Linked DNA regions of Homo sapiens. The protein of the gene in region 3 purifies or fractionates together with the protein of the main gene of each other region. This does not show direct contact. Each region holds a gene or a part of one and is shown on either strand. Other genes may lie near its edges. The genes, in order: KPNA6, KPNA5, PTPN2 and COL5A1.

What was found.
Region 1: the proteins of PTPN2 (region 3) and KPNA6 purify together in Homo sapiens (affinity purification with mass spectrometry; 3 studies listed by BioGRID and IntAct, with this or other methods). This does not show direct contact.
Region 2: the proteins of PTPN2 (region 3) and KPNA5 purify together in Homo sapiens (affinity purification with mass spectrometry, with the first as the bait; 2 studies listed by BioGRID). This does not show direct contact.
Region 4: the proteins of PTPN2 (region 3) and COL5A1 purify together in Homo sapiens (affinity purification with mass spectrometry; 3 studies listed by BioGRID and IntAct, with this or other methods). This does not show direct contact.

The regions. Positions count from the first base shown.
Region 1 is NC_000001.11:32,110,666-32,118,683, reverse strand, and holds part of KPNA6 (importin subunit alpha-7), read right to left. Parts: intron 1-8,018. UniProt on the Homo sapiens protein: Functions in nuclear protein import as an adapter protein for nuclear receptor KPNB1. Binds specifically and directly to substrates containing either a simple or bipartite NLS motif.
Region 2 is NC_000006.12:116,732,812-116,740,829, reverse strand, and holds part of KPNA5 (importin subunit alpha-6), read right to left. Parts: 3' UTR 1-8,018. UniProt on the Homo sapiens protein: Functions in nuclear protein import as an adapter protein for nuclear receptor KPNB1. Binds specifically and directly to substrates containing either a simple or bipartite NLS motif.
Region 3 is NC_000018.10:12,810,603-12,818,620, forward strand, and holds part of PTPN2 (tyrosine-protein phosphatase non-receptor type 2), read right to left. Parts: intron 6,764-8,018; coding exon 6,554-6,763; intron 3,754-6,553; coding exon 3,601-3,753; intron 1-3,600. UniProt on the Homo sapiens protein: Non-receptor type tyrosine-specific phosphatase that dephosphorylates receptor protein tyrosine kinases including INSR, EGFR, CSF1R, PDGFR.
Region 4 is NC_000009.12:134,812,803-134,819,906, reverse strand, and holds part of COL5A1 (collagen alpha-1(V) chain isoform 1 preproprotein), read right to left. Parts: intron 5,925-7,104; coding exon 5,871-5,924; intron 5,111-5,870; coding exon 5,003-5,110; intron 4,332-5,002; coding exon 4,278-4,331; intron 3,973-4,277; coding exon 3,919-3,972; intron 2,882-3,918; coding exon 2,828-2,881; intron 2,130-2,827; coding exon 2,076-2,129; intron 1,252-2,075; coding exon 1,144-1,251; intron 1,060-1,143; coding exon 1,006-1,059; intron 908-1,005; coding exon 854-907; intron 493-853; exon of another isoform or gene 1-492. UniProt on the Homo sapiens protein: Type V collagen is a member of group I collagen (fibrillar forming collagen). It is a minor connective tissue component of nearly ubiquitous distribution. Type V collagen binds to DNA, heparan sulfate, thrombospondin, heparin, and insulin.

The DNA.
Region 1 (8,018 bases), on a different chromosome or scaffold from region 3:
TGTAGCTGGGAGTACAGGCACATCCCACCACGCCCAACTAATTTTTTTTTTGTAGAGACAGGGGTTTTGCCATGTTGCCCAGACTGGTCTGGAACTCCTTGCCTCAACCAATCCTCCTTCCTGAGCCTCCCAAAGTGCTAGGAATACAAGTGTGAGCTACCGCACCTAACCTATACCTATTTTAAAGATAAGAAAATGAGGCTATGTAGAGTAAGTAACTGGTCAAAAAACTAATAACATGGAATAAAACAACTGTAATAGAAAAAAGGATGTGAAAAGCGCACACCACTGCACCCCAGCCTGGGAGAAAAAGCGAGACTCCATTTAAAAAAAAAAAAAGTAAGAACAAAGTGCTATAGAATTTAGGAGAGTTCATTTCCAAACTGGAAGGCATAAAGTACTTCAGAAAGGTTCATGAAGAAGGCAGTATTTAAAGTATATCTTGAAAAACAGGTGAGATGGCTGGGCACGGTGGCTCACGTCTATAATCTCAGCACTTTGGGAGGCTGAGGCGGGAGGATCACCTGAGGTTGGGAGTTCGAGACCAGCCTGACCAACATGGTGAAACCCCGTCTCTACTAAAAATACAAACAATTAGCTGGGCATGGTGGTGCATGCCTGTAATCCCAGTTACTCAGGAGGCTGAGGCAGGAGAATAGTTTGAACTGGGAGGCAGAGGTTGCGGTGAGCGGAGATTGTGCCACTGCACTCCAGCCTGGGCAACAAGAGCGAAACTCCATATCAAATTAAAAAAAAGAAAAGAAAAACAGGTGAGATTTCTATAGGAAAAGATGGGTGGGGAAGAGATTGCTTTAGCTACTTCAGGAATGCTTATGTACAAACAGCCCATATTTTGATTAGAATCATACTGAGTAAGCGTCTCTTCCATGTATTAGCTATGAATTTGCCCAAGTTACTGAAACCTCTCCATCCTTTGGTTTTCTCAACTAAAACATGAGAATCTGAGAATTAAATGAATATATAAAGTACAGGCATATCTCATTTTACTGTGATTCACCGATACTGTGTGTTTTTTTATTGTTGTTATTGTTTTTGTCTTGAGACAGGGTCTCACTATGTTGCCCAGGCTGGTCTCAAACTGCTGAGCTCAAGAGTTTCACCTGCCTTAGCCTCCCAAAGTGCTGGGATTATAGGCGTCAGCCAGCATACCCAGCCAATGTGTGTTTTTTTTAAAAAAAAAAAAACAAATTGGGCCGGGCGCAGTGGCTCACGCCTGTAATCCCAGCACTTTGGGAGGCCGAGGCGGGTGGATCACAAGGTCAGGAGTTCAAGACCAGCCTGGCCAAGATGGTAAAACCCCATCTCTACTAAAAATACAAAAAGTTAGCCGGGCGTGGTGGCAGGCGCCTGTAGTCCCAGCTACTCAGGAGGCTGACGAAGGAGAATCATTTGAACCCGGAGGGTGGAGGTTGCAGTGAGCCAAGATCGTGCCACTGCACTCCAGCCTGGGTGACAGAGTGAAACTCCGTCTCAAAAAAAAAAAACAAAAAAAAACAAATTGAAGGTTTGTGGCAATCCTATGTTAAGCAAGTCTACTGGTGCCATTTTTCCAGCAGCATGTGTTCACTTTGTGCCACATTTTGGTAATTCTCGTAATATTTCAAACTTTTGTTTTTTGTTTTATCTGTTATGGTGATCTGTGATCAGTGATATTTGATGCTAGTATTGCAACTGTTTTGGGGTGCCATGAGCCATGGTCATATAAGATGGAGAACTTAACTGATAAATACTGTGTATGATCTGACTGCTCCACCAACAAGCCATTCCACAGTCTCTCTCCCACCCTATTCCCTGAGATACAACAATATTGAAATGAGGCTAATTAATAACCCTACAATGGCCTCTATTTGTTCAAGTGAAAGGGGCAGTTGCATGTCTCCACATTAAGTCAAAAGCTAGAAATGATTAAGCTTAGTGAGGAAGGCATGTCAAAAAGCCAAGATATGGTGAAAGCTAAGCCTCTTGCGCCAGTTAGCAAAGCTGTGAATGCAAAGGAAAAGTTCTTTTTTTTTGTTGTGAAGGAGTTTCCAAGTCTGGAGTGTAATGGTGCGATCTCAGCTCACCGAAACCTCCACCTCCTGGGTTCAAGCGATTCTTCTGCCTCAGCCTCCCAAATAGCTAGAATTGCAGGCATGTGCCACCACACCCGGCTAATTTTGTATTTTTAGTAGAGACAGGGTTTCTCCATGTTAGTCAGGCTGATCTTGAACTCCTGACCTCAGGTGATCCGCCTGCCTGGGCCTCCCAAAGTGCTAGGATTACAGGCATGAGCCACTGCACCTGGCCAGGAAAAGATCTTGAAGGAAATGAAAAGTACTAGTCCAGTGAACACACAAATGTTTAAAAAAAACAACCGGCCGGGCGCTACTCAGGAGGCTGAGGCAGGAGAATGGCATGAACCCGGGAGGCGGAGCTTGCAGTGAGCCAAGATAGGGCCACTGCACTCCAGCCTCTGTCTCAAAAAAAAAAAAAAGAAAAGAAAAGAAAAAACAGCCTTATTGCCAATATGGATAAACTTTTAGTGGTTTTGACAGAAGATCAAATCAGCCACAATACTGCCTTAAACCAAAGCCTAATCCAGAGCCAGGCTCTAACGAGACTGGTTCATAAGGTTTAAGGAGCCGAGCGCAGTGGCTTATGCCTGTAATCCCAAGACTTTGGGAGGCTGAGGCAGGTGGATCACCTGAGGTCAGGAGTTCGAGACCAACTTGGCCAACATGGTGAAACCCCATCTCTACTAAAAATACAAAAATTAGCCAGATGTGGTGGCGGGCACCTGTTATCCTGGCTACCTGGGAGGCTGAGGCAGGAGAATCGCTTGAATCTGGGAGGAAGAGGTTGCAGTGAGCTGAGATCATGGCACTGCACTCCAGCCTGGGCGACAGTGAGACTCCGTCTCAAAAAGAAAGGGTTTAAGGAAAGAAGCCATCAATGTGGAGGCCAAACTCAGTGACTCATGCTTGTAATCCCAGTGGCTTTGGAGGCTGAGGAATAAGGATCACTTGAGGACAGGACTTGAAGACCAGCCTGGGCAACATGGTGACACACTGTCTCACAAAAATTTAAAATTGGCTGAGTGTGGTGGCACACACCTGTAGTCCCCAGCTACTTAGAAGGCTGACGTGGGGGGATCCCTTGAGCCCAGGAATTAGAGGTTGCAGTGTGCTATCTTGCCACTGCACCCCAGCCTGGGTGACAGACAAAAACCCTATCTTAAAAAAAAAAGTTGGGCACAGTGGCTCACGCCTTGTAATCCCAGCACTTTGGAAGGTTGAGATGGGCGGATCACGAGGTCAGGAGATCGAGACCATCCTGGCTAACATGGTGAAATCCCATCTCTACTAAAAATACAAAAAAAAATTAGCCGGGCGTGGTAGCGGGCGCCTGTGGTCCCAGCTACTCGGGAGGCTGAGGCAGGAGAATGGCGTGAACCCGGGAGGCCGAGCTTGTAGTGAGCTGAGGTCGCGCCACTGCATTCCAGCCTGGGCAACAGAGAGAAACTCCGTCTCAAAAAAAAAAGTGAAGCCGGGTGTGGTGGCTCATGCCTATAATCCCAGCACTTTGGGAGGCTGAGGTGGGCGGATCACTTGAGGTCAGGAGTTCGAGACCAGCCTGGCCAACACGGCGAAACACTGTCTCTATAAAAATACATAAATGTTCTGGGCGTGGTGGCACACACCTATAATCCCAGCTACTTAGGAGACTGAGGCACCATAATTACTTGAACCCGGGAGACAGAGGCTGCAGTGAGGCGAGATCGTGCCACTGCACTCCAGTCTGGGTGACAGAGTGAGACACTGTCTCAAAAAAGTGCAAGGTGAAGCAGCATGTGCTGATGCAGAAGCTACAGCAAGTTATCCAGAAGATCAAGCTAAGATCATTAATGAAAGTGGCTACACTAGCCAACAGATTTTCAATGTAGAAGAAACAGCTTTCCATTGGAGGAAGATGTCATCTAGGACTTTCATAGCTAGAGAGAAGTCAATGCCTGGCTTCAAAGCTTCAAATGACAGGCTGACTCTCTTGTTATGGGCTAATGCAGCTGGGGCCTTTAAGTTGAAGTCAATGCTCAATTACTATTCTGAAAATCTCAGAAGCTTAAAACGTATGCTGAATCCACTGTGTTTATGCTTTATAAATGGAATAAAGCCTGGATGACAGCACATCTGTTTACAGCTTGATTTACTGAATATATATATATATATATATATTTTTTTTTTTGAGACAGAGTTTCGTTCTTGTCGCCCAGGCTGGAGTGCTGTGGCGTGATCTCAGCTCACTGCAACCTCCACCTCCCAGGTTCAAACAATTCTCTTGCCTCAGCCTCCACAGTAGCTGGGATTATAGGTGTGCACCACCACACCAGGCTAATTTTTTGTATTTCTAGTAGAGACAAGGTTTCACCACATTGGCCAGGCTGGTCTCGAACTCCTGACCTCAAGTGGTCTGCCCGCCTCGGCCTCCCAAATTGCTGGGGTTACAGGTGTGAGCCATTGCGCCGGCCTAATGTTGTTTTCCCACCTGTTAATACAACATCCATTCTGTAGCTATACAGAATCCATCCATTCTGTATGAATTAAGGAGTGATTTCAACTTTCAGGTCTTATAAAAACATTCACGATTCATAAGAAGTCAAAATATCATAAATAAGAGTTTGGAAGAAGTTGATACCAACCCTCACGGATGACTTTAAGAGGTTCAAGACTTCAATGGAGCAAGTTACTGCAGATGGGGTGGAAACAGCAAGATAACTAGAAGTGAAAATGTGATAACTAGACAACTGAAAATATGATTGAATTGCTGCAATCTCACGATCAAACTTGAATGGATGAGCAGCTATTCTTACGGGTGGGCAAACAAATGGTTTCTTGAGATGGAATCTACTCCTTGTGAAAATGCCGTTAATCCTGTTGATAAGACAATAGGCTGGGCAAGGTGGCTCACACCTGTAATCCCAACACTTTGGGAGGCTAAGGCAGGAAGATCACTTGAGCCCAGTTCAAGACAGGCTTAGGCAACACTCTTTAAAAACAATTTAAAAAATTAGCCGGGCATGGTGGTGCATGCCTGTAGTCCCAGCTACTCGGGAGGCTGAAGTAGGAGGATTGCTTGAGCCTGGGAATTCAAGGCTGTAGTGAGCTGTTGATAGCACCACTGCATTCCAGCCTGTGTGACAGAGTGAGACCCTGTCTTAATAAATAAAAAAAACATATATACATACATACATACACACATACATGAAATGACAACAAAGGATTTTTGGGGTTTTTTTGAGACAAGATCTTGCTCTGTCGCCCAGGCTGGTGTGCAATGGCACAATCATCTCACTGCAACCTCAACCTCCCAGGTTCAAGTGATTCTCCCACTTCAGTTTCCTGAGTAGCTGGGACTACAGTCACGCGCCACCACACCCAGCTAATTTTTTAAATGTTTTTTTAGAGATGGGGTCTCACTATGTTGCCCAGGCTGGTCTGAAACTCTTGAGCTCAAGCAGTCCTCCCACCTCATCCTCTCAAAGTGCTGGCATCATAGGCGTGAGCCACCAAGACCGGCAGATTTAGAACATTACATAAACTTAGTTGATAAAGCAGTGGCAGGGTTTGAGAGTACTGACTCTAATTTTGAAAGGTCTATGGCAGAGAGAAATGTTATCAAACAGTATCACATTACAGAGAAATCTGTGGTGAAAGGAAGAATCAATTGATGTGGCAAATTTCATAGGTTGTTACTGCCACCCCAGACAATCACCACCCTGATCAGTCTCAGCAGCCATCAACATCAAGGTAAGACCCTCCACCAGCAAAGATTACAGCTCACCAAATGGCAATTTTTCACAATAAGGATTTCTTAATTAAGATATGTACTTTTGGCTGGGCATGGTGGCTCATGCATGCCTATAATCCCAGCACTTTGGGAGGCTGAGGCAGGCAGATCATGAGGTCAGGAGTTCAAGACCAGCCTGTCCAACATGGTAAAACTCCGTCTCTACTAAAAATACAAAAATTAGCTGGGTGTGGTGGTGGGCACCTGTAATCCCAGCTACTCAGGAGGCTGAGGCAGGAGAATGGTTTGAACCCAGGAAGCGGAGGTTGCAGTGAGCCGAGATCACGCCATTGCACTCCAGCCTGGGTGACAGACAGGGCCAGCCTGTCTCAAATAAATAAATAAATAAATAAAAGAGGTACTTTTACTCTACATATTATTGCACACTTAAGAGACTACAGTATAGTATAAAGATAACTTTTATATGCATTGGAAAACAGAAAAATTCATGTGACTTGCTTTATTATATTTGCTTTATTGCAGTGGTCTGGAACCAAACTTGCCTTAGCTCTGAGGTATGCCTCTACTTAGAAGAGTACCTAGCACATAGCAAGTTCTATACAAGTGTTGGGTATTATTATTATTATAGCTTTCCCATCTCTGTCTTTGTTTGTGGTTCACACATTTTGGTGCAACCTGGGTTAAAATACAAACTGGCAAAAAATAATAAAATAAAAGCTGGCAAGTCTCTTTTAAATAAGGAAGGCTTCTCCACAAGTTCCCCAGGCTTCCCTTCCCATCTAATTAGCAAGAACTGCATCATATGCCCATGCCTAAATCAATCACTGTCTAGGGAGCTAGAGTTACAATGATTGGTTTAGAGTTTATATCAAGACCCACCCCTTGGGGTAAGGAAGGGTGGCCAGATTCCCAGTTAGCACAGTAGTAGTAATGGTGAAAAGACAAGTAGTGTCTGCCAAGACTCATGAGGTTGTAGTCTCTGCTAGAGGGTCAGAATAAAGCAATCTCCAGAGCTACAAATATCACCCCTACAGGGCACCTAGTGGCAGGGAAATCACTGCAAAGGTCTGTTAAGGGTAATGAAGTTTGGCATAGTAGAAATAGTGTAGGATATACGACTGAGCTAGTAGGATACAGACTGAGAGTACACTTAAGAGGCAGTGAAATACGGCAGGTTCCGTACTTGTGGGCATGTGAAGGCAGGCTGTGTTAGTGTCTCCAGTGCCCAAAGGATCCAGAATACCAGCCTTGGACTAGTCACCTAATCTTCTCAAAGCCTCAGTTTATAAGTGTAAATGGAGATAACCCAAGATACCTTAGATTAGATGTTAGAATTAAATGAATGCATTAGTTTGGTCTACAACAAACAAAAAGCTGACATTCATAAAGACAAGCTACGATGAGGGAGAGGTACCTGAGATGGAGCTGGAAAGAGGAAGTTACCTGACTCTAGGCTAAAAACCCCCTTCAAGACCTTGGTCAGGGTTTGTTGCTCCACTGAAGAACTTTCATGTTGAACTGTACCAGAATAGGACTAACTTTATTTCTTAACTTCTTAAGTCTTATAGATTTATGTGCTGCAAAATGGGTAAGAATCTTACTCCTGGCTTTGTGGCTTACTGGCTGTGTTATCTTCTCCGAGACAGTTTCCCAATCTATAAAACTGAGTAAATCTCTACTTATTTCACTGAGCTTATTAAACATTAGTTCCTTCCCTTTGAGGCAACAGTGTTTCTGAAACTGAAGACCAATATAAAATTTATAACAAAGTTTATAACATAAAACCCCCTAAATTTTTTTCACTGAAAGATGAAGCTCCAGCTACTAAGAAAGGCCTATCAGTCTTATTACTCAATAGGGAAACCTGGAAACCAGAGTGCTTAAGGGAAAGGAACATTATTGAAAGTGGAAAAGAATCTGTTCTGATATTCATGGAGCCCTTTAGGCTCCAAACACTGTTATCTGTTTTTTGTTTGTTTATTTGTTTGTTTTTGAGAGGGAGTCTAGCTTGTTGCCCAGGCTGGCATGATCTCGGCTCACTGCAACCTCCGCCTCCCGGGTTCAAGCAATTCTCCCTTCTCAGCCTCCCAAGTAGCTGGGATTACAGGAGCACGCCACCATACCCAGCTAATTTTTGTATTTTTAGTAGAGACAGGGTTTCACCTTATTGGTCAGGTTGGTGTCGTCCTCCTGACCTCAGGTGATCCACCCGC
Region 2 (8,018 bases), on a different chromosome or scaffold from region 3:
GTGTGATGTTCCCCTTCCTGTGTCCATGTGTTCTCATTGTTCAATTCCCACCTATGAGTGAGAAGATGCGGCATTTGGTTTTTTGTTCTTGCGATAGCTTACTGAGAAGGATGATTTCCAATTTCATCCATGTCCCTACAAAGGACATGAACTCATCATTTTTTATGGCTGCATAGTATTCCATGGTGTATATGTGCCACATTTTCTTAATCCAGTCTATCATTGTTGGACATTTGGGTTGATTCCAAGTCTTTGCTATCGTGAATAGTGCTGCAATAAACATATGTGTGCATGTGTCTTTATAGCAGCATGATTTATATTCCTTTGGGTATATACCCAGTAATGGGATGGCTGGGTCAAATGGTATTTCTAGTTCTAGATCACTGAGGAATCGCCAAACTGACTTCCACAATGCTTGAACTAGTTTACAGTCCCACCAACAGTGTAAAAGTGTTCCTATTTCTCCACATCCTCTCCAGCACCTGTTGTTTCCTGACTTTTTAATGATTGCCATTCTGACTGGTGTGAGATGGTATCTCATTGTGGTTTTGATTTGCATTTGTCTGATGGCCAGTGATGGTGAGCATTTTTTCATGTGTTTTTTGGCTGCATAAATGTCTTCTTTTGAGAAGTGTCTGTTCATGTCCTTCACCCACTTTTTGATGGGGTTGTTTTTTTCTTGTAAATTTGTTTGAGTTCATTGTAGATTCTGGATATTAGCCCTTTGTCAGATGAGTAGGTTGTGAAAATTTTCTCCCATTTTGTAGGTTGCCTGTTCACTCTGATGGTAGTTTCTTTTGCTGTGCAGAAGCTCTTTAGTTCAATTACATCCCATTTGTCAATTTTGGCTTTTGTTGCCATTGCTTTTGGTGTTTTAGACATGAAGTCCTTGCCCATCCCTATGTCCTGAATGGTAATGCCTAGGTTTTCTTCTAGGGTTTTTATGGTTTTTGGTCTAATGTTTAAGTCTTTAATCCATCTTGAATTAATTTTTGTATAAGGTGTAAGGAAGGGATACAGTTTCAGCTTTCTACATATGGCTAGCCAGTTTTCCCAGCACCATTTATTAAATAGGGAATCCTTTCCCCATTGCTTGTTTTTCTCAGGTTTGTCAAAGATCAGATAGTTGTAGATATGCGGCATTATTTCTGATGGCTCTGTTCTGTTCCATTGATCTATATCTGTTTTGGTACTGGTACCATGCTGTTTTGGTTACTGTCGCCTTATAGTATAGTTTGAAGTCAGGTAGCGTGATGCTTCCAGCTGTGTTCTTTTGGCTTAGGATTGACTTGGCGATGCGGGCTCTTTTTTGGTTCCATATGAACTTTAAAGTAGTTTTTTGCAATTCTGTGAAGAAAGGCATTGGTAGCTTGATGGGGATGGCATTGAATCTATAAATTACCTTGGGCAGTATGGCCATTTTCACGATATTGATTCTTCCTACCCATGAGCATGGAATGTTCTTCCATTTCTTTGTATCCTCTTTTATTTCATTGAGCAGTGGTTTGTAGTTCTCCTTGAAGAGGTCCTTCACGTCCCTTGTAAGTTGGATTCCTAAGTATTTTATTCTCTTTGAAGCAATTGTGAATGGGAGTTCACTCATGATTTGGCTGTTTGTCTGTTATTGGTGTATAAGAATTCTTGTGATTTTTGTACATTGATTTTGTATCCTGAGACTTTGCTGAAGTTGCTTATCAGCTTAAGGAGATTTTGGGCTTAGACAATGGGGTTTTCTAGATATACAATCATGTCATCTGCAAACAGGGACAATTTGATTTCCTCTTTTCCTAATTGAATACCCTTTATTTCCTTCTCCTGCCTAATTGCCCTGGCCAGAACTTCCAACACTATGTTGAATAGGAGTGGTGAGAGAGGGCATCCCTGTCTTGTGCCAGTTTTCAAAGGGAATGCTTCCAGTTTTTGCCCATTCAGTATGATATTGGCTGTGGGTTTGTCATAGATAGCTCTTATTATTTGGAGATACGTCCCATCAATACCTAATTTATTGAGAGTTTTTTAGCATGAAGCGTTGTTGAATTTTGTCGAAGGCCTTTTCTGCATTTGTTGAGATAATCATGTGTTTTTTGTCTTTGGTTCTGTTTATATGCTGGATTACATTTATTGATTTGCGTATATTGAACCAGCCTTGCATCCCAGGGATGAAGCCCACTTGATCATGGTGGATAAGCTTTTTGATGTGCTGCTGGATTCGGTTTGCCAGTATTTTATTGAGGATTTTTGCATCAATGTTCACCAAGGATATTGGTCTAAAATTCTCTTTTTTGGTTGTGTCTCTGCCCAGCTTTGGTATCAGGATGATGCTGGCCTCAGAAAATGAGTTAGGGAGGATTCCCTCTTTTTCTATTGATTGGAATAGTTTCAGAAGGAATGGTACCAGTTCCTCCTTGTACCTCTGGTAGAATTCAGCTGTGAATCCATCTGGTCCTGGACTCTTTTTGTTGGTAAGCTATTGATTATTGCCACAATTTCAGATCCTGTTATTGGTCTATTCAGAGATTCAACTTCTTCCTGGTTTAGTCTTGGGAGGGTTTATGTGTCGAGGAATTTATCCATTTCTTCTAGATTTTCTAGTATATTTGCGTAGAGGTGTTTATAGTATTCTCTGATGGTAGTTTGTATTTCTGTGGGATCGGTGGTGATATCCCCTTTATCATTTTTTATTGCGTCTATTTGATTCTTCTCTCTTTTCTTCTTTATTAGTCTTGCTAACGGTCTGTCAATTTTCATAGGTCACGAATAAATCATAATATAAACTTTAAAATACTTAGAGCTGAATAACTTGTGGAATGCAGCTGAAATGGTACTTCAAGGTAAATTTTTAGCCTTCCCAAATTAAACATTTAACAACCTTAAATGTTTAGGGAAATTAGGGAAAGACTTAAGAATAAATCCAAAGAGAATAAAAGATTGGAAATTCTAAAATTATGAGCAAAAACTAAGGAAATAAGTAAAAAGACTATAATCACTATAACTGAATTCAGCGAAAGTGATTGAGACAAAAAGGCACCAAGAAAACAATATGAAAAATGATCAAAGCCCACATTAAACAGAGATTTTAAAAAGAACATAGATTGGTATGCTAACTTCTGCTTTAAGCCAAACTAGAGTAATAGGGACCAGGACAAAAACATGAAACAACAGTTTCCAGACATTAGACATCAGATAATGAGGAACCGTGATCTATGAAACAGAGGAAACAAACTAGTTGAGCCCTATGACTGCTCTGTCTCTTACTGCCTAGAGTTTCACGATTGCAGGGCAAGGAAGGGAAATTCAGGTATAGCCACAAAGTCTCTGAGATGGGGAGAAAGAGTTAGGAAGCCAGGGAGGACAAAACTAGAGTTCACAAGGTAGAGTACCAAATGTGACAAAACTACACAGATTGCTCCAGATTATCTGCAGAGGATTCCCCTTTGAGTCTTCAGCCAAGTACTATTGACCACATGTGACTACTACCCAAGGCCTTCTAAAGAATCACCTGAAAGCACAAGGGGAAACAATTTTTGGAGCCCACAATGATCAGGAACAGTTTAAGTTCCACTAGCCAAAGTGAAAATCCCTTGTAATTCATAGGGTAATAGAGTACTCGGAATGGTACTGACTCAGCAGTAAAATAAACGTTGTTCTGTGCCTGCCTTACAAAGTTTAAAAGCAAGCCTTTAAAGGATCACATTTTTTCCCCTAGTAACTTGTGTTAAGAAGAACAAATATGGGAAATTCAATATCCAAACATGTAAACGCATGCAAATGAAAAATACAACTCATAATAAAAAAATCAATAAACAGAAACAGAGCAAGAAATGACAGAATTAGTAGCAAGGCCATTCAAACAGCTATTATACTTGCTGTGTTCAAGCCAGCAGAGGAAAGCTTGAGTATGATAAAAAAAATGGAAGATATAAAACAGATCCAAATTGAATTTTTAAAGATAAAATACACAATGTCTGACATAAAAAATACACTAATGGAATTAAGAGATTAGACACAGCAGAAGACAAGATTAGTGAACTTGAAGACGAAACAATGAAAACTATACAAAATGAAAAATAACCAAAAATGAGCAAAGCATTAATAAGCTGTGTGAGTATTTCAGGCAGACTAATATAAGCGGAATTGGAAATGAAAAAATGTTTAAATAATTGCTGTGTTTTCAAATTTGATGAAAACTATAAATCCATGGATCCTAGGAAGCTCAGCTAACTCCAAGAACAAGAATTGGTTGCTTTGGGGTGTAAAATATGCATTTAAAACTTTGTGTTACTCTCACGTGATTTAAAAAACATACTGTAGCCCTGCACTCCCTACTGAGCACTTGAAATATGGCTAGTGCCAGTAAAAAAGTGAACTTTTGCTTATGGTGATGGCAGCACATCTCTGAATTTATTAGAAAATCCTATTTTTATTGCTCAAAGAAGAAACTTTGTACCCAGTCACCTCCCATTTCCAACTTTCCCCAGTCCTAGATACTAATTTATTTCTGTTTCTATAGATTTGTCTATTCCGAACACTTCATATAAATGGAATCTGGTTTCTTTCACTTAGCCTAATGTTTTCAATGTTCATCCATGTTGTACCATATATCCATATTTCATTTTATTACTGAGTAATATCCCATTTTATGAATATAACATTTTATTTATCCATTGGCTGATGAACATTTGTTTCTACATTTTGACTATCATGAATTGATCCCTTTATCAAATGACCCTCTTTATCTCCAGCAATAAATATTCCTTGCTCTGAAATGCACCTTGATATGCATTATATGGCCACCCCAACTTACTTTTGATTTGTGATAGCATGGTATATCTTTTTTCCACCCTTTTCACCAATTTGCTTCTTGAAAACATTTTCTTAGAGGCAAAATACGGCCTTACTTTTTTATTAAAACTGATAACCTCTGCACTTTAATTGGCATGTTTAAATCATTAGTAATTACTGTGACTACTGATATAACTGAGTTTGATCTTTCTTGCTATTTGTTCCATCTTCATTTGTTTTTTCTCTTTTTCTGTCTAGTTTTGGATTAGCTATTTTTTATAATTCTATTTTTTCTCCTTTGTTAGTTTTAGAAAGTAAATGGATTTTTAACCAATAATAGCATCTGTCTTTGTTCTGTTAGGAAACAACAATCTTAAGAAAAAATGAAATGGACACATTTATATAAATGCAATTTTAAAATATTTTATTATTTTTAATATAGTGTTGTAACATTTCATAATATTGCATACTACTCAAAAGTTGGTTTATTTAGTAGGGTAAGAATATCTTCTCTTCTTACTCCCCAGTCAGAATTTAAAGATATACTATCCTTTTAGAGCTCTATTATATTGGCTCCTAAAATGTCACATTTCATAAAACAGTAATGCTATAAACTAAACTGAATAAAGGTTAAGAACAATTTGATTTCACAGTTTCGCAAGCAGCCAGTAGATTGCTGAATTGAGAACCATAACAAAAATTCACTAAGACTTTATATTTATTTTTCCATAATGCTCCTTCTTAAAAGAAGAAAAAATATAAAGGCAAAGGTAATATATGCTTCTTTTAGTCCCTTATCCAATAAATCAACCTTTAACTGCAAATAGGTTTTACAGTTACCAAATGATATGTTAGTTCTGTGCCAGCAGAATTTATTACTTTTTTGCTTTCTTGTTCTGGTGTTACCAGTAAGTTGACCAAATGACACTAAAATTTAAGGACACTATCACTTAAAACAACGTTTTGAAATAAAACACAGTAAAAAGACCACACCCAGTGAGTCAAGTGCTTATAAATATAAAACAAGCATAATTGCATAGATTAAATAGGAGAAATTCAGATTCAGACAAAATAAAACACCAAATTTAATTAAATAAATGAAAAGGACTCTTTCAAGTATTTTCTTGATATTTGCATTAATGCTACATGCATTCCTCTTTATAACACTTTTTTTCGGCATAGTTTCTCTTGGATTTAAATATAACAAATCTTAGAAAAGCAAGTTAAAAAAGTATTTTTCCTCCCACAAGGGCCAGTGAAGACTACTGAAAACACTTTTTGGAGCATTTTATTTATTTTTTTCTTTTCTTTCTTTCTTTTTTTTTTTTTTTCCTGGTCAGGGCTCTGCCTGATGAAATATTTTAAATGGTATACTTGAAAAGAGTAGCTATATTTTTGAAGAATTTTCATCACAAAGTTATTTGTTAGTCTTGATCCAATAAACTCTTAACAATAAGCCAAGCCAAGCCAAGCCAAGAGCTGGTCCCAACTGCTATACAGTGCTCTTTGCAATCAAATCTAAAATTAATTACCCAAGTAATATATTTAAGGAAATAAATAAAACTGTATTTAAATGCTTATGAAGTATAATCACAGTCTGTAGAGATATGTTTGTTTTACCGGCAAAATTTAAGTTTCCTTTCACAGGTCATTCTGTGTGCATGCATCAACACACACATATTTATTATTTCTCCTTCTATAAGAACTATCTTGTTTGAAAAATTTGGCTTAGAAATTTATTATAGTGACTACAGGGTCCTCAAAATAAAAGGAGGCACAGCTGGTTAGTTTATGAATCATGCTGCATTATCAATTTTAATTGACTAGAAAGAGTAGAATACCCTGTCACCTGATACTTAGAACCATCTGCACCACAAAAAGGTTAATCTGATAAATTCACCATCAATTTGGTAAGCTTTAATATAACTACCCTGTTTTTTGAATACAGATAATGCAAAAGAAAACCATTTTATACTCGGCTATATACCTTCCACTACGAAAAAAGGGGCACAGATACAATCTTCTACTTAATAATAAAAAAGGGCTGGCAGATGCACTCAGCATTACGAACACCATTTAAACCTGTATTTTACAGCTGTAGGTTTTAAGTATCTTGTCAAAAGCTTAGTTTCATGATATGTAATTTACAAAGTGACATATTCTTTAAAAGTACTCCTATATACATTTTCCTCTTGGAACGTGCCTCTGATTTCCAGCAGAAACATTACAAATACTATCATAAATGAAATCTTTTTTTAAAGAATAGACCATGAATCATATCAAAATTGCCTTAGTTCTCATCTTAAAAAGAGTTGTAAACTAAGTTTTAAGTAAGTATTCTAGGTATACAATTGGACACATAAATAGCCTACGTATAACTATAAATTAAAAGATTGAGTTCAACAGTAGTTGAACTGTGAGAGTAACACACACACATATATATGTATAAATATATATATAATTTTTCTATTGAAACCTTTCTTTCAAATTTTCCGTTTGAAGAGGTTTTTGCTGTTAAATCATAAAACATACATATTGATCAATCTGACATGAATGTAATCTATGATTCATAACAAGCAGCAGAATGACCCTCTGAGTATTACTAAAAGAAAAAAGTCTTATAGATTTGAACCATATTAAAGAACCTTTAGCAATTTTCATTATCATTTAGCATCCAAATGTTAAATGCATTTAATACAATTTAACACATAATAAGGTTATTTCTTCAGGGTAATTTTGTCATTCGAGTACCTAAACTTGTACTTGTACTTAAACTTAAACTAGTACTATTATACAGAAAATGAAACTTTTCAATTACTGCTCTGAAAAATCAGAGAAATAATTAGTTATTATTTTAGATATGCAGCACTACTTTAGATTCATGATGACATCTCTGTCATGATGCTCTTTAAAACAATGAGTGAAAAACAATAAAACACTATTTCAAAAATGGTAGCATATTTGGTTGAAATACAAAATATACTAATATACATAGCACTTATATGTTAAAAACAGAAATATTTAAACATTTTATAAAGTAATCTTTTTAATGTGTTCAACATGAAAAACAGCTTCTCCCTTCACAATTGCCACATTTTAATGGATTATCAGTATAATATTTCTTCTGTTTTATAAATAAATTTTATAGGTTTTCTGTTGCAATTTTTTGCAAAGTATAACCTACAGCACAGTGATATGTATAATTTAAGGTAATAAATATTTTCACATTCTAATTT
Region 3 (8,018 bases):
GGCTGGCTTTTTTGTTTTATAATAGTTGATTTACAGAAGATTTAGAAAATGTGAAATTCTACAGTTTGTTGTGTTTGGAGAACAGTTAGTAGTACAGTTTGGTACAATTTGTCTAGAGGATGGAAAACACGCAAAGCTTGAGTAGGAGAGATGAGGCTGGAAAGGAAATAGACCTCCGGGAAAGAGGTCTCTGGACTTCATGAGTAGTGGGGTAGAACTGAAAATCCTGAGCCCTAAGAGGGCGCAAACCATGTCCCCGAAAGAATACTGTGCCAACAATCAAGAAACTACAATATAATGGAACACAGGAGTAATTAAGGATGTCTTCACTTAGATGACTGTCTATTTTCTTTGTTCCCTTGTTTGTTTTGTTACTCAATCCAAATCTTTTATAGTGAAGACATGGAGTACTTGCTACTCTCCATGCCATATTCTAACACTTCAAATGTGCTAGCTCTTAATCCTCACAATAACCTTAGGAGATAAGCACTAATACTAATATTACCATTATTACACCCTTTTTACGGAAGATGTGGGGAGAATAATTAGGTAACTCGCCCAAGGATATGCACCTAACAAATAGTAGAGACAGAATTTTAACCTAGGCAAGTCTGGGTTGACTATGCTGTGACCCCTTATAAAGATGTGTGTTCAACAAAGTACCCCACAAAAATGTTAAATTGTCTCCAGAATTTACACTGGTCAATTTTTGAAGTTTCCACTCTTGACTGAGACCTAGTTATGTAACTTGGCCTTATAGCTGGACAACACTCAACAATGTCAACAAATAAGATGACACCAAAAATCAAGTCTCACTGGACCACTTCCCAGAATATGCAACAAATTCAGAATACGTCAACAAGGAAAGCACTCGGCAGAGAGAGAAATAAAAGAGATATTTAATGCTAGTGAATTAAAAAAACCCCACAAACCCAACAATGTCATTTTGCCATGGCTATGTTCAGCAAACTCACTCATGGCTATGTTCGACAGACTCATTCATGGCTATGATCAGCAGACTCACTCGTGCCTATGTTCAGCAAACTCACTCATGCCTATATAGGTTCAGCAAACTCACTCGTCTCTGTCCTCCCTGTGACACACAAGGGAGCCAGCACTCCTGAGTCACCTGCCTCAGGTCATTAATGCTGACTGGTGAAGCCAAGGAATTACATTTCACTAAACTATAACCTCAAAGGAGCTCTCATTTTGAGGCCTGGTACTGTTTCATCTTTCTTTCTAATTCTGTGCTCACGTTGCACCAACCCATGAGTCACTGCCACTAGGAGCCATGCCCCCCACACAATGCCTAGAACCCTAGCTCTACCCATTTCTCTCACTGAAGAAAGCTTTAAGCAATGCAATTAAACTTCAAATCCTCTGTAATTTGTTAAAAGTTTATCATTTACATTTAATACTTTATTAGTAATATCAAATTACCAGCTAGAGATCTTACAACATTAGTTCTGAATTGCCAAACTAGATATTTACTCTGGGGGGTTAACTGTCATCATCAATACTGGGAATATGCTAATAAATATGTGGTAATACCAGCAACCAGCTTAAGTATTTATGCCTGACCTTGTGCTGAAAGGCAATTGCAAATAGCCTATATGTCTATAGGAATGTCAAAGTCATTGGAAGTTTTCTGTAAATGAATACATGCTTTAAGATTATAATTACACATATTTACAGACTTAAGATACAATCACTTTGGGCTGGGTGCGGTGGCTCACGCCTGTAATCTCAGCACTTTGGGACGCCGAGGTGGGCGATCACTTGAGGTCAGGAGTTCGAGACCAGCCTGGTCAACACTGTGAAACCCCATCTCTACTAAAAATGCAAAATTAGCCAGGAGTGGTGGCAGGCACCTGTAATCCCAACTACTCGGAAGGCTGAGTGGGGAGAACCACTTGAACCTGGGAGGCAGAGGCTGCAGTGAACCGAGATTGTGCCATTGCACTCCAGTCTGGGCAACAAGAGCAAAACTGCGTCTCAAAAAAAGAAAAAAAAACCAGTAGCATGTGTGGTATGTATTTATTAATCCAACTTTATCAGTAATCACTTCATATGCCGATGGTCTAAATGCACCAATTAAAAAAGATTCTCAGAATGCCAAGACCATTTCTGCAGAAATTAACCCCTTGGAATGGGCAGCATGCTTTTCTGATCCTGAGTACCTGAAGGATAAAGATGTTTCCAATATCCTATCTGGAATAGGGGCAGAAAATGCCTTAGAATTGAGAGCCTGAGGACAATATCACACCAGATAAATTAACAGAAAAAAAATCCTTCCTAGCCACAAACTGCACTGTCAAAGACTCCACAAAAAAGTGTGTCCAGAAAAACTCATCTCTGTGATAAAAAAAGATCCACCCTCAGATAAAGTATGTATTCTAAAACTAAAGACACAAAACTTAAAAAAAAAAAAAGCAGTGGTAGGAAAGACACAATCCAAAGGACAATACATTTCCCTCCCAGTTACCCGTCTCATCACAGCCAGGAAGCAGGCAGGGAAGGCGGCATGCAGGCTGTGAAGGCATGGGGAAATCTGATTGAACTACTTTTCTTTTTGAACTCCAGATTTAAGTTGGTGAAAGCTCACTGTGATTAGAAAGGGAAATTTTCCTAATCTTAAACATCTGAAATAACTTTTACTTCACCTAAATCACTGATCACTGCCAAAGTGACCCTGGCAAATCCAGTGTTCCCAAAGTCTGGCGTCTGAAGCAGGACATGTTCTAATGGGCTGAGTTTCCCAAACATTGCGTATTTTGGCTCTGAGTGCCCTAATGTTTCTGTGCATTAAGAATATTTTAATGCTATTTAAAGATTTGGAAAAAATCTTTTTAAATAAACCTTTATTCTGACACCAATGGTCCGATCTAATTTACATTCTTATATTGGCTAGTAATCAGAGAAATGAAAGTGCTAGTAAATATGTTCACACATGAGAAACATAATGAAAAGACAGTCGATCTTCTTATATTATGCATCAACTTACAGTATCTGCTTATGTCCAATACTATGTGATTAAACCAGACAAAAAATGGAGTCTGTGGTTGTTTCTATTTTACATTTTAACTTAGTACATAACACAAGTTTCTGATCAGTCTTTGAACTTAGGTTCTACAAATATGCAGTAAAAATAGCTTAATGAGAATAAAGCCACCAACCAGAAGAATATAACATTTTGCTGGAATTTCATTATATCTGCCATAAATATTCAAGTTGCTTGTTGTTATAAAGTCAAATATCACATAAACCAAGTATCAGTGTTTAATGAAGGCAAAAGTATCTCAAGTTTCCAGTTACTTTAATAATTAAAAGATTAACCACCCCCAAAATGAAAAATTCAGTTTCTTTAATGAAATCTTGTTTCTACAAGGGCTTTTAAGTAACACACAGGATTTAACCTGAGGCTGAGTATATATGAGGAAGCTAGCTAAAATTTTACAATTTTAAGACAGCCAGCTGGATTTACCACAAAAATTCAAATACACTCTTTGAAACAAAGACAAGGGCTCAAGTGGAGTGCAGTTATTTGATGCTATGTGTATTTAACAAATAGATATGATTTAAAACCTGTATGAAGTTTACCTGTATACTAGAATCTCCCTTTATACATTTTGCTCCTTCTATTATAGCCATGTATGAGAATCTCAGTTGATCTGGGGTCTGAATAAGACCCATTCGGTATTTTCTCATGTTCAGTAACACTTGTTTTATGTTAATATCATCTCCTTTTTCCATCTGCAAGAAAGGCAAAAAATGAGACAAGTCTTGTTATTGGAACCCAGGAAACAGAATCAATGCAAGATCATTGCTAAGATTTTTGCTATGCATTTTCTCCTCTGAAAGAACAACGATAATTTAACCCTCCAGCTATAACTGTTATGTACACAACAACTATCCCAGCCTACTCATCCCTCCCCACATCTCAACCCCTCAAGTAGTTGGAGGACTTTGATTCTTTAGCTGATTCACAACTGATTCCAAACCAATCATAGTAATCTCATTCCTTCTGGCCAGTCATTGGTTAAAGGAAGGATTTATAACCAGTTCTGGCTAGTATAAGGACTATTTTTTTTTTTAAAAGTCATGGCAGGAGTCAACCTTTCTGCTCATTCCCCTTCCGCCTCCTTCATGTCTGCACTACAGACACGATGTCTGGATATACAGCACCCATCTAACAATGGTGGAAAAGAGGCCAGGCATGATGGCTCATGCCTGTAATCCCAACACTTTGGGAGGCCAAATCACTTGAGGCCAGGAGCTAGAGACCAGCCTGGCCAACATCGCGAAATGCCATCTCTACTAAAAATACAAAAATTAGCTGGGTGTGGCGGCGCATGTCTGTAATCCCAGCTACATTGGAGGCTGAGGCTGGAGAATCGCCTGAACCCAGGAGGCGGCGGTTGCAGTGAGGTCAGATAGTGCCACTATACTCCAGCCTGGGCGACAGAGCGAGACTCCATCTCAAAAATAAATAAATAAATAAATAAATAAATAAATAAATAAATAAATAAATAAAAATGTGGTGGGTCACACCTGTAATCCCAGCACTTTGGGAGGCCAAGGTGGGCAGATTATGAGGTCAAGAGATTGAGACCTTCCTGGACAACATGGTAAAACCCCGTCTCTACTAAAAATACAAAAATTAGCTGGGCATGGTGGTACGCACTTGTAGTCCCAGCTACTCGGGAGGCTGAGGCAGGAGAATCTCTTGAACCCGGGAGGCGGAGGTTGCAGTGAGCTGAGATTGCACCACTGCACTCCACCCTGGCAACAGAGCGAAACTTCGTCTCAAATAAATAAATAAATAAATAAATAGAATAATAAAATAAAATGAAGAAAGACGGTGGAAAAGACAGCAAAAGCCCAGATCCACGATAACACTGCTGAGCTACAGCACTGCTCTGGACTACTGACCTAGTGTTAGAATCCCCACACCCAGGCTCACCAAAAATAAAAGAAAAAAAATTGTTGAAGTTATAGTTGGCAGGGAACAGGTGTCATTAACAAAATAATCACCAGAGTTTTAAAACTTTGATGTAACAATCTAATTTTGATTGAAGTATACTATATATACGCAGAGTGGTAAAGTAATACAGATGTTTAGTTAAGACTCAACCGTTCCCAATTCCTAGCTTTCATTAGAGATGCAACGTCTGAAATGTTCTTCCAAGAGTATCACTCCTTCCAAGAGTATCACTCCATTGATCAAGCTCCTTGTGTGTGTGTTTACAATGAAAAGCATCATCATATTAATTCACCTGGGAATCTACTTTGTGCTGGCAGTCATGGTGGAAAGCATAAGAATGCTGACATAACTGCAATGAAGCATAGCTACGTTTTACAGAAACATCGAAGAGACTAATACAGGGCCTTAAAGTCAAGGTTAAGAACACCAGTCTTGTGTCAAGCGTGGTGGCTCAAACCTGTAATCCCAGCATTTTGGCAGGCTGAGGCAAGAAGATCACTTGAGCCCAGGAATTTGAGACTAGCCTGGCCAAGATAGTGAGGCCTTGTCTCTACTAAAAATAAAAAAGCAAAAACTAGTTGGGTGTGGTGGTGCAGGCAGCTACTTGGGAGGCTGAGGTGGGAGGATCACTTGAGTCCAGGAGGTTGAGGCTGCAGTGAGCAGTGATTGCACCATTGTACTCCAGCCTGGGTGACAGGGCAAGACTCTGTCTAAACAAAGACAAAAACAAAATCCCCACCAGACTGAATACCAGGACAAGCTAAACTGCTTAGGTTATTGATAATCTTAGAACACGCTCAGAAAGCAGAAACTAAGCTGCAGGGACTACTGAAGGAGTAGATGGCATGGAAATCAAAGCAGACAGTATTATTGTTGGGTTTGATCCTATAATAAGAGGAAGAAGTAAAGACAGAAGTTAGGAGAAGTATAAGGGCAAACAGAAGTTTCATGTATCCCAAGTAACGAAAAAATAAAGGTCCTAAAAAGAGAAGAAAAGATCTAGGCTGTATACAGGCTGGGACTGGGAATGACTGGTGGAGAAAGAATTAGCCGTTGGGGGCACAGACAGGAACCTCAGGGGAGTAACAGTAATACTGACATTTATGGAATGCTCAGAAAACATCAGGGACTCTTCTAAGTCTCCTTAATGTATTAATTCATTGAATTCTCACAGGAACCCTGTGAAGTATGTCTATCATTATCCCTAGTTTTTAAATTTAAAAAATGAGATAAAGTATCTGTCTGAGGAGGAAGGAATTCAATATTACATATGAATTTATATTTGAAAAAATGTGGGGGAGAGACCTATTATTTCTGTAATATAAAGCTACCAGGAAGAAAAACACCTTCTTAGGGATCTCTAAAATCATCATGGATACATTCCTACCAGTCATGAATAAGAGGCAGTTGCAACGGTGGAAATGAGATTTTTAGGTTTTTCCAAAAGTAGAAGTTTAAGTTGAAAAACCTCAGTTCTGGGATACAGCATCAGAGTTTATTCACTGCCAGTGGAAGCAATTTAAAAAAAAAAATCAATGAGATTAAAATGAGATCGTAAGAAGCACTTACCAAAACAAGACAAGTGTCTACCAGAGAGAAGGTGCCAGAGCGCCCAATGCCTGCACTACAGTGGATCACCGCAGGCCCATGGTCAGGGTTCAAGGAGCCAGATTCTCTCACTTTAAACAAGAAATTGAGAAATGAAGCTGGTGATTCAGGGACTCCAAAATCTGGCCAGGTAGTATAATGAAAGTGAGATATTGTTCTGGTTTCACCACTCTAAAAAGTGAAAATCAAGGGAGAAGTTAGTTCTAACTTTTTTCTTTTAAAAAACTACTTCAGAAAGATCATGTGTTTTATATAATTCTTTAAAGCCATATAGGCTGTTTATACTATGATTTTTCCATTTGTTTTCTGACAATCCCATATACAAACTAGGGAAGATTTTCTTTAGTGGAAATTTGTGATGTATTAATAATAGCTAACGCATACAACACTTACTATTTTGGAGGCCTGTTCTAAGCACTTTACTTATTAACTCAATCCACACAATAATCCTATTAAAGCCCATTTTCCTGATGAGGAAACTGAAACAAAGGGTAAGATAGTTTGCCCAAGGTCACACAGCTGGAACATGGCAGAACCAGGATTTGAAGCAACCTGGGGCAGCCTTTGGGTTCTCAGCTACTAATCTGTTACCATACATGTTACCAATATTTTCTTTAATTCATGTATCATGAATGGGCTATTTTTTTCTATTTTAAAAAATTTCTGCCGGGTGCAATGGCTCATGCCTGTAATCCCAGCACTTTGGGAGGCCGAGGTGGGCAGATCACTTGAGGTCAGGAGTTCGAGACCAGCCTGGCCAACATGGTGAAACCCCGTTTCTACTAAAAATACAAAAAATTAGCCAGGCGTGGTGGCGCGTGCCTGTAATCTCAGCTACTTGGGAGGCTGAGGCAGGAGAATTGCTTGAACCTGGGAGGTGGAGGTTGCAGTGAGCAGAGATCGTGCCATTGCACGCCAGCTTGGGCAACAAGAGTGAAACTCCATCTTCAAAAAAAAAAATTTTTTTTCTACCAGTATAATTTTACATTCTTTAACATTTTCCTTTTTATGAATTTCAAAGTTTATTTTTTAAATATAATCTCCCGTTCACATGATTATCTTTTAGATTCTGCTACACAGGCATAGGGGAGCAACTCAAGAATTAATCTAAAGAAACGATCTTTATATTTTTAATTGGAATTGCTCCTCTAAATTGTTGCCTTTCCCCATGGCAATAATTTCCAATCCTAAAGCTGTTTATATGCTTTTGCTGATGTGCTAAAGTGGTTTACCAACATGCTAAATGTTTCCTGTCTCTTAAGCCTGCCTGGTATTCACTATCGCTTCCTGGATATTCCTGATGATCTGTATTTCTAACTCATTATGAAAATGTTCCTTAGCTTTTTGCCAATTGCCTTTTGCCCCAAGGAGCACTTCTCTGCTTTATACTCTTCATTTGTGTAAACGAAGCAGTGGTCTTCCACTA
Region 4 (7,104 bases), on a different chromosome or scaffold from region 3:
AAAACAGACAGGGAGCCACAGACACTGAGACAGACCAAAGTGATAAAGGGGTTTTCCTGAGTGGTAATGTTTATCTCTGTCTTTCTCTTCGTATACGCTCTCCAATTTCCTATGGCAAATCCGAACGCCTGCTCCTATACGGAACTAAAACAAAGTTTGTGGACTGACACGGAAAGAAAGATGCAGAGTATTATAGATATTACAATCATGGGTTGTTTTTCTAAAAAAAGAAGAATCCATGACACTCGCTGTCTATGTTTGTCTTCTAGGAACCCAGGGCAAGCCTCGCAAGGCAGCCCCAGCTCTCATTTGCCTTGGGGCTGGGGGCAGTGGTGGCGGACGTCAGAGTGGAAATGAGAGGGCCCTCACTGCCTTCTGCTTCATATACAACCATCTCACTCCTGAGTACCTTTTATGTTTGTAAATAAATCAATGCAAGTGGAAAACAATTCCCAGCAGTTAGAAAAATAAAAGGGCTTTGCTCCCACTGCAGAAATGTCCTCACACCTCCTGCGGAAAGGATCTGGGGCCGCTCAGCCCAGGGAGAGCAGCAACCTGGGATCCTGGACACCCATCAGCCGGGGCCTCTGTGCCTAGCTGGAAGGTTCTCCGTCAATACCGCAGGGGCCTCCGGGATCTCCCGAGCTGCTCAGGACCCCCCAGAGGCAGGGGCCAAGCCTCAAACACAGCGTGTCTATTTTCCTTTGTCACCCCTCAGGTTCCCCACCACCAGCCTGCAGCAGGTGCTTGACACATTTAGGTGACGGATCAAGAGCTTGTTGAGTTTGAGACCCACGGCCACAAATTTGAAGGCCCCGAGTCACAGTTGCTGGGGCAGGGAGGCCCCTCTTACCTTTTCACCTTTGGGACCAGAATCTCCTTTGAGGCCGGGAAGTCCTGGGGGACCCTGTGGGAGGAGGCAGGGGGATCAGAGTCCTCATCCTTGGGGCTTTGGGTGGCGAAGTCATCCCACCCGCTATGCTCACCATGAGGAATGTGACTCACCATGGGGCCGGGGGGACCGTCCGGGCCTGGGGATCCTGGGAGACCTTGTTCTCCCTGAAACACAGAGACGCTCTGCATGAGTTGCTGGTCCCCCGTCCCTCCACTCGGCAACCCCTCTGCCCCTCACAGCCTACTCACCACAGGGCCAGGGATCCCTCGAAGGCCATCCGGTCCGGGCTTCCCAGGGGCCCCCTGGGGGCCGATGGGGCCAGTCTTCCCAGGAGGGCCTTCCAAGCCGGCTTCTCCCTGCAGGACGGCGGAGGGCAGAATGAGGTCCGGAGCTCTAGGCTCCAGGCACCCTGGCCCAGGACCACTGCTCGGAAACCCTGGGCACCTCTGGAGGAGTCCCAGGTGACCCCATATCCGGGGTTGCCCTAATTCTCCACATTTCATTGCCTGTGGAAGCTGCCCTGGTCAAGTCTCCATCCCGATCATCTCCCAGGCCAGCAGGGATCCCGTCTCCGCTGACTGCGCCGACCACAGACCGGGTGTCACAGCGCCACTGCCCGAGCAGGGATGGAACCGCACAACCTCCCGTCTCCTTAACAACAGGCGCCTCCAGGAGGGAGGCAGACAGTGCCAGGCCGGGCCGCCATCACCTCACTGACAGAATAGCCTCCCGTGTGCTCTGGGCCAGGCCCCAAGCCAACTGCATGGGTGACGGCGTCCCATCTTCTGCACGGGCCCCGCAGCAGACACGGTCACCATCGGACACGGTCCACTTCAGAGGTAGGCGGCTCAGGTCTGGCCGACTCAAAGACCAGGCATGAGGTCGCAGGGCTCCGGGGGACATAACTACTCAGCCTTGGGCTCCCTGAATCCCGCACCCACCACCCGCCTCCTCCCTCAGGTGGGCAAGGCAGACGGCCCCAGTCTTGTGGCCACCACTTGGCTGCCTCCTTGAGAGAGAACCAGGTCTCCTCCCCAGGTAGGCCATGAGCCAGGTGCCCCTGGGGCAGCCACTCTCAGCCTCCATGGACATCTCTGCCCACACGCTTGTCCACTCCCCACCCTCTGGGCTCCCCTGGGGGAGGTCTACGCGGTCACAGCCTGGCTCCAAAACACGTTACCTTGGCCCCTTTCTCTCCCTGTCTGCCTTCGGGGCCTGCGGGGCCTGGGGGACCCTGAAAGAAGCAAGAGAACAGCAGGTGGTGAGTGTGGCCTGCAGGGGTGGAGGGACGAGCTCGGGTGCAGGCGCTCAGGGTGTGTGTGTGTGTGGCCTGCAGGGGCAGAGGGACGAGCTCGGGTGCAGGTGCTCAGGGTGTGCCGGGCTGCAGGGCAGGGGTGCAGGGTCATGGAGGCTGCTCCCGGGCCACCCGCAGTGACACGGGTCCTCAGCATGAGTCCTATGGACTCCAGTCCCAGGTAAAGGCCTCTCAGGCCACGTGGGGAGGCGCAGTGCACGCCGCGAGTTGTGTGTGGCCTCCGTCCTGGGTGCACCAGGCAGCTGTTTACTGCCCCACCAGCAAGTGGCTGGACCATTCAATCTGCAAAAGATGCCTTCTCATTTGTTCTGGCTTTTCAGTAAAACCTGAGCCAGGGGAAAAGGACCTTTGCAGCTTTGCGGGTGTCTTTCTCCCACCATGGATATCACTGACCGTGTCAGCAGGCGGCCTGTCCTAAAAGGAGCAGCTGCGTCGACCTGGCAAGCCTGTGATTAGGTGATGATGTGGCCGAGGCTAAGTGGAGAACATGCCACACCCGAGCCCTTCCTCATCAGTGCAGCTTAGAGCACCCAGGGCCCAAGCAAAGGTGACGGGGAGGGGCGGGGGTGTTTCATGCAGGGATTTGACAGCAAGGATGTGCCTGCAGGATTATTTACCCTTTTTCCTGGAGGCCCCGATGGACCTGGTTCACCAGTAGGGCCGGGGGATCCCTGGTATTGGGAGAAAGAACAGAGTGTGAGGAATTGGGGCCCGTTAGACTCAATTGAGGCAAAACACATGGCGATTTCAGTCTATTTACTCCTCGGCCAGCCCTGCGGCCGCCTCTCTCTTCTTTTGGGGCTAGCACAGAGGGTCCTAAGACAGTGTCGCACCCGGGCTGTGACAGCGTAAGGAACCCCAACTCCCATCCTGCGGGTTTTCTGCATTTTGGAAGAGAACTTCCCCACTCACAGTGCTGACTCTTGATACACAATGACGGTTCGGTCCCCACCACAACCTGGGCAGGGACGAGGCACTGGCATCCCCTTTCACAGAAGGGGGGACAAGAATCGTCCCAGGACACAGGCCGGGAAGTGGTGGACTGGGGGTGTCTGTCAGGGAAATCCAGCCCGAGGCTAGATCCCTAACCCCTTCTCTGAGTGGACGCTCCTCTCAACTCAGTGACATGGCCTTTGCCCTCAGGTCCGCAGTCCCCCGCGCTTGGCCAGGCTGGGTGCAAGGTGGGGCAAGGGCATCTGCAAGGCCTCAGGGGCCTCCTCCAGGCCCAGTCCTGCCCAGGGCCCATGGGGGTCGATCCGTCCCAGAAAGACGTTCTGGGCTTGAAGCGGTGTTTAAAACACTCAACGCCAAGCGTCAGATGCAACGTCCAGTGTGATCTCGGTCAAGGTAAGGCAGGAAGGGCCTGGTGAGGAGAGGCACTGGCCCTGCTAGGCAGAGCTGTGGGTAAGATCTGACGTTCCCGGGCGAGCCCATGGTGGGTCGTGGAAGCCCTGGGGCTGCCTGCAAACCTGCTGCTGAGACAGCACGTGCATCTCAGAGGGAGTTCATGAGCTCTGTCACTGTCCAGAATCAATATCATAAGGGAATCAACATCATAAGGGAATCAATATCATAAGGGAATCGATATCATAAAGGAATCAATATCAACTAGGTTGGAGTTTTTCCCAGAAATGAGTCAAGCAAGCTGCAAGGTCCCAAGAATACACTGACACCTCCACCAGGAAGCCAGCCCAGATTGTGGACTCACCGTCTGCCCGGGTTCACCATCATCTCCTTTGTCACCAGGGGGACCATCTTGACCCTATGGAGGCAAAAGCGAGCTCCTTGCTGAACCCCGGATGGCACCCTGAGTTCATGCACCAGTTCCCAATGCATCTCCAGCCCCTTCCCAAAACCCAAATCCATTCTGGTGCCAGCACAGAGCATGGTCAGTGGGGTCAAAGGCGTTTTCTTGCTCTGATCACCGGAACACGAGTGCCTTTTGGGACATTGCCTGCCCCAGTGGGAGTTCATCACAAAGAACCACCAGAAAGAGGGGAAATGGGGCTGGCAGAGGCAGGCCAGCACTGTGGGGGATCCGGTGGCTTTGCCCTCTTGAGCACCTACCGCGGGGCCAGGCTCTCCGGGGGGGCCAGGATCTCCAGGAAAACCCACTGGGCCCTGAAAGGAAGAAAGAAGGAAGCAGCCAAGGCCATCAGCAACCTGACTGAGACCACACACGGCCAATCATGTCACCACCTCAAGATGGCCACCTGCCACCGTCCAGCTCCTAAGACTTTCCAGCAGTTCCGACAACCCAGTGCACTTTATGGCCCAGAGACCCTTCCACGTGCAGCATGTCCCAGAGCCAGCAAGCCTGGCCAGTGGGCATGGCAGGGGTCAGCTGGTCTCTTGCTTTCCAGAGCCAAGCAAGGGGCAGGCGTTCCGCCCACAGGTCTATTCCTGGGAGCTCCAGGCTGCAACTAGAACCTGGACCTTCAGACTTCCGGAATGTGCCTCTCCGAAGCCCCTCCTGATGCAAAATCAGGGCCGGCCAAGGGCGGGGGCAACTTCCCAAAGCCTGGCTGTCACTCGTGCATCTCAGCCGGCCGCCTGGCCCACAGAGAAGAATCACTCAGGGCTTTCTCCTCCAGTCCACGCCCTGTCTCATCTCCACTATTTTGGTTCAGTAGCTGGTATGAAAACCTCTAGTGTCTAGAAAATTTACCCAACACATGGAATGGTCTTGAAGCTGTTCTCAGAGCAGAGTGCACCGCCAGTGAGTCAGAATGATCCCAGTGCAGAGCCCCGCCCCTGCTGCAGGGCCCCTGAGGTGTGTCTGGAATACTCACAGGGCTGCCTTTGGGACCATCATCTCCGGGAGGGCCTTTGGGTCCAGGGGGTCCGGCAGCACCTGAAGGGCCTGACTCGCCCTTCTCTCCCCTTTCTCCTTTGGGTCCCTGGAGGAAAGAGGCCAGTGTCAAGTCCTCAGAGCCAACCACGTCGCCGCCCAGAGCAAGGTGGGCCTCCCCGGTTTTCTCACCCCATTCAGACCAGCCTTTCCAAGTATCTGCTGAGCCCTGCAGGGGGCTGGCTGCCAGGTCGCTCCCCAAGCCCTGGGCAGAATCAGCTCCTGTGTGCACCCTGAGGGGGACCTGAGGAGCCTTCACTTTCTGGGGCCCTCAAAGCCTGAGATTCAGCTCTGGGTGGGAGGGACTGACTCCTGGACCAGACATCAGTCAGTGAAGACCACAAGGGGTGCCCACAGACTCCACGGATCTCATGGGGAGGGAGCAGCTAGAACCAGAAGACCCGAGTCCACCCAGCTGGTCCTGGGCCTGAAAGCCACCTTTGGGCTGGCCTCATAGTGAACATTCATCTGGCCTGAGAAGGCCTGGATATTCCTAGTCTGGCCCTCAAGGTCCGGGGGGACGAGGTGACAGCAGCTGCCCCGCGAAGGGGCCAGGAGCAAACACTACAGAGGGTAGAGTTACTGCAGGCCACTGGGCACAGGTAGCTATTGCTAGGTCTGCGTGTACATGCTGACTCCCACATCACACACCTTGTTCACGGTCATTCCATGAAATGGGCACAAGAGGGGTTACAACTCCCATTTCGTGGATGGAAAAGCTAAGGCAGAGCCAGAGCCTCCAACCCAGCACCCCGTCCACACACCCGCTCGGCCATATCCCACCCCTCCCGCAGCGCCCGCTCACTCACCGGGGGGCCGCCTTCTCCCGGAAGGCCAGGCTCACCTGCTTCGCCAGGCTCGCCCTAGGGAGACAGTGCATGTGGTTATGGCAGCGGTGAGCACCGCGATGAACGCAGTGCTACGGTTTCAAGCATTTGCCAAATCCTGCCTGCTGTCTGCCTGCCCCTGGGCACCCAGGACCCAGGGGTTTCTGGGGAGTGCTGTCCCCACACACTCCCAGAATTGGAGGTGCGTGAGGAATGTGGCAGGCACGTGATGGATACAGGGCAGAGTGTCCAGACTGCAAGCAACACTGTCTGTGAAGGCTTTCCCGGAGCGCTGCTCCAAGGGTTGTGGAGGGCAACTATGAGAAGCTGGTAAGTGGCTAGGATGGCACTCCAGGTGGGGGATGGCCAGGGCCGAGGCAGGAGGACAGGCACGCAGTCCTCAGGGACACAGGCCAGAGGGACGCAGGGAAGAGGGCATGCACAGTGGCAGCAGGTGAACAGAAACATGCGCCCTACAGCGGGGACACCAAGGAAAACACCGCCTCTCTGAGCAGAAGCCGCACACCATCACCCTGTGGTCTCAGCAGGGCATATTCCTCTTTAATTTCTGTATCATAAAAAATGAGCAGCGGTGGAAGGCGTCTTCCAATTTAATGGCCTGATTGATGTCAGAAAGAAAGCTCTGGAAACGGTGCACAGGGGGCTCAAGTGCATGGATGTACACTCTGTCTTCCCTCTTGTCCAGGGGAACTGGGAGAGGTGCTTTTGCAGTCAGGCAAATGCTGTCCCACCCAGCATGCAGGCACACACACATGCACCGATGTGCACACAGGAGCTCACACACACAGGCACACACACACACACGACTGGGTCCATGACGCTCATGGAGTCTGGGCTCCAAAACCAATCAGATCAAATGGAGAGGACCCATTTGAGAAAATAATTCGGCTGAAATGGAAACTGCAAGCTTAGAAACACCAGTTATTTAAGGAATAGATGATCTCCACCAGAGCTGAGTCTTGGAGGAGGCAGGGGCTTTGCTGGTGGGGCATCGTCTGGAAATTCTGCAAAAGGCTGTCACAAATGGACAGTCAGAGTTCCCAGTTCCATTTCACAAGCATCTGCCTACATTTCAAAATGCCCTTCATAGGAATAAACCAGCCATGCCCACAGAAATGAGTACTTCTCATCTCTGTGTACACACAGAGAGGTACACACACGTGTATGCACCCCCACAAGCGTGTGCATGCGCACA